Linked DNA regions of Homo sapiens: all the other regions are linked to region 2. Evidence: fine-mapped expression QTL. A gene starts in region 2. Each other region holds a variant in brackets. All regions are shown on one strand. Distances are between the middles of the regions.

What was found. PIP is the estimated chance that this variant, and not a neighbour inherited with it, causes the effect.
Region 1: its variant is fine-mapped to the expression of PLXNC1 in whole blood (TOPMed, PIP above 0.99). The same link has a PIP of 0.9 or more in blood mononuclear cells.
Region 3: its variant is fine-mapped to the expression of PLXNC1 in pancreas (GTEx, PIP above 0.99).

What each region holds. Positions count from the first base shown.
Region 1 is chr12:94,262,270-94,265,026 of GRCh38, forward strand. All of the region lies in intron 20 of PLXNC1 (plexin C1), which reads left to right. Among named protein-coding and RNA genes, the nearest start is that of PLXNC1-AS1, 87 kb to the left of the region's middle. RefSeq lists a silencer at 939-1,018 and enhancers at 1,209-1,973, 1,974-2,737. The variant C/G (reference allele first, on the strand shown) is at 1,401.
Region 2 is chr12:94,147,270-94,150,026 of GRCh38, forward strand. PLXNC1 (plexin C1) reads left to right here and starts at 1,308. Exons shown (of 31, transcript NM_005761.3): 1 at 1,308-2,757. The coding sequence starts at 1,703. RefSeq lists silencers at 1,075-1,204, 1,215-1,464, 1,535-1,764, 1,895-2,134 and an enhancer at 2,335-2,434.
Region 3 is chr12:94,182,336-94,185,092 of GRCh38, forward strand. All of the region lies in intron 3 of PLXNC1 (plexin C1), which reads left to right. Among named protein-coding and RNA genes, the nearest start is that of PLXNC1-AS1, 7.3 kb to the left of the region's middle. The variant C/T (reference allele first, on the strand shown) is at 1,275.

The DNA.
Region 1 (2,757 bases), 120 kb after region 2:
CAGCCCCGGTCAGCTGTGTGTCCCTGGGCATGGCTTTTTCCATCTGGGCATCTGTTTTCAATCCACCAAATGACAGGCGTGTGTGGGCGTTGCCTTTAAATCCCTTTCCAGCTCTTTCTACTGGATCTTGTGATTCTTAACTCTGAGCTTTCAAGGGCTGCTCTTGGGCATTAGAGGGGTGAGATGTTCAGAAAATCTGGGCTGCGAGCCCAAACAGCCTCCTTGAGCAAAGCATTCTGGGTCAAGACTTCACAGTGCTGATTCAAGAGCGTCTCGAGCACTCTGAGTGGTGAGGGGGCGGCTCGGCTCGCCAGGAGGAAGTGGCATCCAGCCAGTCGGCGATACTTTCACTTTCAGTGGAATAATTCCCGCTGGTGCAGGGGTCTGATGTCCCTCCACCAGGTGCTCAAGGGGGTCTGGGACACCGACAGCCCTAGTCCTCCTGTCCTACCCCACAGACGTTTAGTGGGTGACAGTAGCTCCGTGACCGCCAGGTAACTTTCCCTTCCAAGACACCAAGGATTTGTGGGTAAAATAATAATACCATTTATTGAATGTGCCAGACAGCATGCTAAGAGCTTTACCTATCTTTTCTCATTTCATCCCCTTAAGGGTCCTGTGAGCTAAGTGTCTTCATGACCATTTTGTATATGGGGGAACTGGAACACAGAAGAGCTGTGACTCTCCCCAGATCTCACTGCTACTGTGGGACAGCACCAGGGTCCGAGAGCTCTTAGCCACCGCCCTGTGCCCTGAAAAGATGGAATCTGCCCTGGTCTGTTAAAGTGTCGAAGCCTGGCCCCTGGGGGAGGGGAATCACGTACGCAGCGGCTGTGGCTCGCCTAAAAGTTGTGTTTAGTGGTGACAGAGAAACCTCATGGCCCTGTGATTCCCCAAATCAGCCACACATCAGAATCCTCCTCCCCCACCGCCTCCCCGCCCCCGGCCCCGGGAAGGTAATGAAAACTACAGATACCCAGGCCTCATTCTTCAGAGAGATGGCAGCTCTGTAGGTCTAGAGTGGAGCTCAGGCATCTGAATGCTTAACAAGAGCCCGCAAGGGATTCTGGTGATTAGCCAGGGTTAGACCCAGGAGCATGGGCAGAGTGTAGGGCCAGATGTTACTTAGCTCAGTCTAGCTACTCTCCAGAAAGTTCTGGAGAATTCCTGACCACAGGCCTCCTGAGTCAAGACCTGTCCCTTCACACAGCCCCCGAGAGCCCACCTGGCCCCCTGACTCCAACCCCTGCGGGAGTACACAGCCCCTATCCAAGGGTTCTCAGCCTCCCTTCTGATCTGTGCTGGAGGAAAAGAGGTTCTAAGTTTTGTGGTCAGGGCATTACTTGGGGTGGGGGAGGTGGGCGGTGGAGGGAAAGAGAAGAGAAGGGTGAGGTTGTAAA[C/G]CACTAAATAAAGGAAGTTTCTCATGAGAATTAAATGTCATGCACTAGTCCTGCTGCCCTCCCTACCTTGGAAATTTCTGAACTTCCACTTCTGCCCTGCACTGAAGAGGAGACTCAAGGAGGTATCACAGCAGGGATAGAAGCTGCAGGGTGGCAGGAGGTGGCAAGAGGAAGCCCGGGGACTGGGGAGGGCAGATATTCCTGCAGCAAGTATAAAGGAAGGGACAGGGTTGGGGTGGGATGCTGAGAGACTTAAGATGTCTTAGGTAACTTGCCTGCGCAAGGGAAAGCAGGTGAGACCCAGTGGAATCCTCCTTTCCCAGCTGGACGTATCGCTTGTCAAGCTTGACTCTTAACTGGCGCTTCGAGCCCCAGCCACGTGGCTGGCCTTTCGTCATCACTAAGGCACTTTGACTTCCCAGCCACGGTTCTTCCTCCACCACAGAGGCCTAATGTCCATTGATTACGGAAGGTTCGTTATTTAGCAAATACTCTACAGCTGACCCAGGGCTAAGTGCCTTGGGAGGATGCCGTGGAAACAGAACACACCGCCTCCCACTTGAGGTGCTCAGAGTCCTTTGGAATGCAGACATCCGTGTCTGCGAATGTGAGCCATTTCCATCACAGCAGGGGAGGCAGCCCCACCCCCAGCCAGGAAAAATGCATGTGGCTTAAATTTGTAGAAAGAGCCAATCGGGATGGGCCGAGTGTTTGGAGAAAAACCTTAGAGGAAATGGAATTGGCTCTGGTTCAGGGAAGAAGATGGAGTCCCTCTGGCCCAGCACCGGAAAACATGTCCAGGTGGGACTGTGCAGTGTGTGTCTGGGAACTGCCCGGGCCGGGCCTGGCCTGGCCCATGGAGAGGAGATAAGGCTGCAAACTGTTGAACGGCAGGCTGCTTCCTTCGAGAAGTGCTGTTAACACCAAAAAACATTGTATTTGGCAAATGTATAAAATGTTCTTACATTTATCCTTGTTACTAAGGATACTTGTGCATTTTTTTAAATGTCGTTTATTTCTGGCTTGCTAAAGGGTGATTAAATACGAATGTAAACAAAGGTACACTCTCCACATCTAACTGTTCCTAGGCATTAACCCACTGATGAGCATTAGTCTGCCATATGTAAGTTTAAACATAAAATAACAAGGTATACTGTGGGTACTGCACGTCGCTGTGAATGTGCACGCGTGCGCGTGTGCAGATGTGCATTCGCGATGGAGAGAGGAGGCGGTTTTCTGAGTTTTGCATCCAATCCCAAGTGGAGCAACGTGTATTTTCTTGGGCGTTTCATGTTGAGTGTTAGAAAACCCTGTCTCCTGCCTTACTGCTGTAAACAGAAACTTTAATTCTTTGGAA
Region 2 (2,757 bases):
TGTGCATCCTCTGGGAAGCCCCATTCCGAGAAATCATGAACCTATTCCCCAGTGGGCAATGATTCCCTGTGCTTCAGAAATTCTTGGCGGCTGTGGGGGCAACCCAGCTGTTATTCACCCTCTGGGTGAGGTGGTGAGACCTCAGGGGGTCCAAAGGATAAAAGTGGGTAATGATGAGACAGATGGAGAGCCTCGAGGGAAATACGGGGACTTGGGTCTAATAGTAGAAAGCAGGGCGGGGGCTGGTTGGTGCATTTAACTTGAGGAACTTTTCAGTCTCACTACAGAGAATGATCTCTGGGGGATTATGGCAATGGCCACAGGTGGCACTTAACTAGAGCCAGGTATGTAAGAGGCCCTGGGGCTAGATATGGATTCGAATCTCGGCTCTGATATCTACCAGCAGTAGAATGCCAGCACGTTCCACAACCTTTCTATAACCATTCTCCTGGACTACTAAGTAGGGATGACAATAACAGTCACTAATTAATAGGGCTGTTATGAGAATTATGAGTCTTAACCCATGTGGTGAGTTCACAAGCGCACCCGGCACGTAGTAAGTGCTCAGTAAATGTTAGCCCCGCTCATTAGGTTAGATGGTGAGCAGAACTTTCCAAGTGCTAGGCTTGAGAGCCTGGGACTCTGTTGCCAAGGGAGATTAGAGAACCTTTGCAAATATGGGCGCTCCGGCCCTGGGGATTGTCCAGAACGAGAGTGTGGCGCCTGCCTTTCTGCCACCTCACTCATCCGACCCGGGGAAACCCACACCCTGTCACAGGGGCGCCTTGGTCCCCGGAGTCTCCGGCTCGGCCATGTCTCCCGCGCGCCTCCCCGGGGCCTCCCTCTCGCCGCTCCACACCTGTCAGCCGCTCTCGCAGCAGCCCTGTGGCCCGAGCCCGGGGCCTCAGCTGCAACCCCTTCGCACCCTGGATCCTCGCTCCGCGCGCCTGGCGTATCCCCGACCCGGCTGCTGTCGTAAACAAAACCGGGCGTTGGAGCAGCACCGCGGGCGGACGGGCGCGGGAGCCCGCTCCGTGCGCCGTTAGCGCGCCCCGGGAGCCCCAGGCGAGCCAAGGGGGCGATGGTGGCGGCCGCGGCGGCCGCGGCGGGCGGCTGAGCTTTGTTATGAATAGATGAAAGAGGCCACCTACACAGTAACCCAAATTACGAGACCTCCCTCCTCCCTATCTCACCGAATCAAGAGGGGAGGGGAGATGGGCGTGGAGGGAGGGCGGGCGGGCGGGCAGGAGGCGGAGGGCGGAGGAGGAAGAGAGGATGAGGAAGGGGGCCAGTTGCATCCCACTTTCACAATGGGAAAGTGAAACGCACAAGCGCACCCAACCTCTCCAGCCCTCCCCGCCCGCCTCGCTCCTCTCCGCCCGTCCCCTCCCTTCCCCTCCGCGCCTCCCCGCGAGCGCCAGCGCTGCACACAGGAACTCTCCGGCGAAGGAGGGCGAGGAGGAAACGGTGCCGGAGCGCGCAGGGCTTGCTGCCGCCACCGCCGCTGCACAGGCTGCCGGAGCGAGCCTGCCGCGCGCCGCCCTCCCCGCTCTCCTTCCTGGGCGAGCTGCGGGGATGGGGCGGCCGCGGGAGCCCGAGCGCGCGCAGGAACCGCCGCCGCCGCCGCCCGCGTCTCCGTTGCCGCGCGCCTGAGCCGCCGTCGCCGCCGCGCGCCCTGCCCGGGGGCGGCCCCCCCAGCCCCATGGAGGTCTCCCGGAGGAAGGCGCCGCCGCGCCCCCCGCGCCCCGCAGCGCCACTGCCCCTGCTCGCCTATCTGCTGGCACTGGCGGCTCCCGGCCGGGGCGCGGACGAGCCCGTGTGGCGGTCGGAGCAAGCCATCGGAGCCATCGCGGCGAGCCAGGAGGACGGCGTGTTTGTGGCGAGCGGCAGCTGCCTGGACCAGCTGGACTACAGCCTGGAGCACAGCCTCTCGCGCCTGTACCGGGACCAAGCGGGCAACTGCACAGAGCCGGTCTCGCTGGCGCCCCCCGCGCGGCCCCGGCCCGGGAGCAGCTTCAGCAAGCTGCTGCTGCCCTACCGCGAGGGGGCGGCCGGCCTCGGGGGGCTGCTGCTCACCGGCTGGACCTTCGACCGGGGCGCCTGCGAGGTGCGGCCCCTGGGCAACCTGAGCCGCAACTCCCTGCGCAACGGCACCGAGGTGGTGTCGTGCCACCCGCAGGGCTCGACGGCCGGCGTGGTGTACCGCGCGGGCCGGAACAACCGCTGGTACCTGGCGGTGGCCGCCACCTACGTGCTGCCTGAGCCGGAGACGGCGAGCCGCTGCAACCCCGCGGCATCCGACCACGACACGGCCATCGCGCTCAAGGACACGGAGGGGCGCAGCCTGGCCACGCAGGAGCTGGGGCGCCTCAAGCTGTGCGAGGGCGCGGGCAGCCTGCACTTCGTGGACGCCTTTCTCTGGAACGGCAGCATCTACTTCCCCTACTACCCCTACAACTACACGAGCGGCGCTGCCACCGGCTGGCCCAGCATGGCGCGCATCGCGCAGAGCACCGAGGTGCTGTTCCAGGGCCAGGCATCCCTCGACTGCGGCCACGGCCACCCCGACGGCCGCCGCCTGCTCCTCTCCTCCAGCCTAGTGGAGGCCCTGGACGTCTGGGCGGGAGTGTTCAGCGCGGCCGCTGGAGAGGGCCAGGAGCGGCGCTCCCCCACCACCACGGCGCTCTGCCTCTTCAGAATGAGTGAGATCCAGGCGCGCGCCAAGAGGGTCAGCTGGGACTTCAAGACGGCCGAGAG
Region 3 (2,757 bases), 35 kb after region 2:
TGAGGCCAGGAGTTTAAGGCTGCAGTGAGCCATGATCAAACCACTGTACCCTAGCCTGGGTGATGGAGCAAGACCCTGTCTCAAAAAAAAAAAAAAAAAAAAAAAAAAGGCTGGGCATGGTGGCTCACACCTATAATCCTAGCACTCTGGGAAGCCAAGGCAGGGATCACCTGAGTTCAGACGTTCAAGACCAGCCTGGGCAACATGATGAAACCCCATCTCCACTAAAAATACAAACAATTAGCTGGGCGTGGTGGTGCATGCCTGTAATCCCAGCTACTTGGGAGGCTGAAGAACAAGAATCGCTTGAAACCAGGAGGTGGAGTTTGCAGTGAGCTGACATCACACCACTGCACCCCAGCCTGGGCAACAGAGTGAGACTCTGTCTCAAAAAAGAAAAAAAAAAGAAAGAAGAAGAAAAAGAAATGTGTTATTAATTTAATAAAAATAAATGTGTTATTAATTTATTTTATGTGAAGAATCTAAGACTTGGAGAGGTTAAATAACTTGTTCAAGAATATCTGTATCTATCTATCTATCTATCTATCTATCTATCTATCTATCTATCTATCATCTATCTATCTATCTATAGGTTAGCCTTTGCAGGGCTGTGACAAAAACTCAACCCTGATTCTAAAGCCTCTGATAAATGATATTAAATCCAAAATTTGTGAAAACTGGACATTCCCTGGCTCAGTGGTTTTGACCTATGACCGTTTGAACATGGAAAGTGCAAAGAAGATAATTGAGACTTACATAATTATATAATGGATGTAACAGATACTCTCAGCCCAACCCTGGTTTTCCATTCTTTTCCTTTCAGTCATTCTAAGGAAAATAGCAATGACAGCAATCTACATGTGCTTTTTGAGTCACAGATAAGATGTGCAAGCAATTTGTAGTTTCTGGTATTCTTATAAAGACGATACTGTTCTTTGCACATTGAAAAGTCAGTTATATCAAAATGACCACACTGAGATGGCCACATCTTCCCACAGAGCTTGTAAACCAGTCCTTCACCATATAGAATCTCCTATGCCAATTTGCTTCACCATGCAGACACTTTGTATTATGTTTCTTCCCTGGGGATCCCATCTTTGAAAGACTTTTGTCTACCCAACAAACTGCACATATTAAGTAACAGTTCCCATTCCCAGGGTTTATTTATCAAGGGCGTCTCAAAACTGCCGGTCAGAGTACTGACTGTGTTCCCACATGGAGCTGATAAAATTCCAACCCAAAGCAAAGAAACTTGATATCTTCCTTAATCCATG[C/T]GTGTTTTTCCATTCAGCTGTCTGAAATATTGCAAATAGCTCATAAGCCCCCATTACTTCCTTCATGGATAGTAATGGAACCCCAGAACTCAGGACCCCAGGCTGGGAACCATTATGAAAAGCCACCAGTAGTTGATGGGTTCCCACTTTCTAGAAAGCAAAAAGTTCTAGCCTCTGATCATTCAAAGCCTGAAGTCCTGGGAAGAGTTTTTGACTGGGCATCAAAGCTGGTTAGCCCTGCATTCTTCACTGAGGATTACTGCTAGAGATCCTACTGTTTGAACTCTGGCTGAGCAAATATAACGCCTAAAGAGACAAAGTCCAAGGAAGGCTCTTGGGGAGATAAGAACAGCCAAACTAATAAGCTATGGGATATCCATAAAATGGTATGATACGGGGCCGCTAAAAATAATCATATGGAGATGTAGGCATTGATATGGAATAGTCACTACGGTCTGTTATTAAATTAGAGGGCAGGTCTAATGTAGTATTTTTAGTGTCCTCTCTCTCTCTCTCTTTTTTTTTTTTATGGAGTCTTGCTCTGTCACCCAGCCTGGAGTGCAGTGGCGCAATCTCAGCTCACTGCAACCTCCGCCTCCACAGGTTCAAGCAGTTCTCCTGTCTCAGCCTCCCTAGTAGCTGGGACTACAGTCACACGCTACCATGCCCGGCTAATTTTTGTATTTTTTTTTTTTTAATAGAGACGGGGTTTCACCATACTGGTCAGGCTGGTCTCAAACTCCTGACCTCAGGTGATCCACCCACCTCAGCCTCCCAAAGTGCTGGGATTATAGGCGTGAGCCACCTCGCCTGGCCCTCTCTCATTTTTTTTTGAAACAGAGTCTCACTGTCGCCCAGGCTGGAGTGCAGTGGTGTGATCTTGGCTCACTGCAACCTCCACCTCCTGAGTTCAAGAGATTCTCCTGCCTCAGCCTCCTGACTAGCTGGGATTACAGACGCCCACCACTATGCCCAGCTAAATTTTGTATTTTTAGTAGAGACAGAGTTGGCCAGACTGGTCTCCAACTCCAGGCCTGAAGTGATCTGTCCACCTCAGCCTCCCAAAGTGCTGGGATTACAGGTGTGAGCCACCACGGCCAGCCAGTGTCCTCCCTCTTATACAGAGTTATATTTGTGTGTTTAAATAGACTGAGTAATAGTTCTCAGAGAATGTTCTGGAGACCCATATTCCACAGAATGCTCTGAGCAAAAGTGGTCCCAGAACCAGCTGTTACTTACTATACCCCTCCTGGAATACTGTGAGGCTCAGCATAGTCAAAGGCTCCGAGAAGCCCTGTGCTAAGGAAACCCGTTTTGCTTTTTCAGTCTGAGGTTTTATGTTTGCTGGATCATGGAGCCCTTTTCTTGCATAATAGCAGTAACCAATACTTATTGAACATTTAGTACCTGTCAGACAATAGTTCATAATAACCCCATGAAGTCGTGATCCATTTTACAGATGAGGAAACAAGGTTAGAGAGAT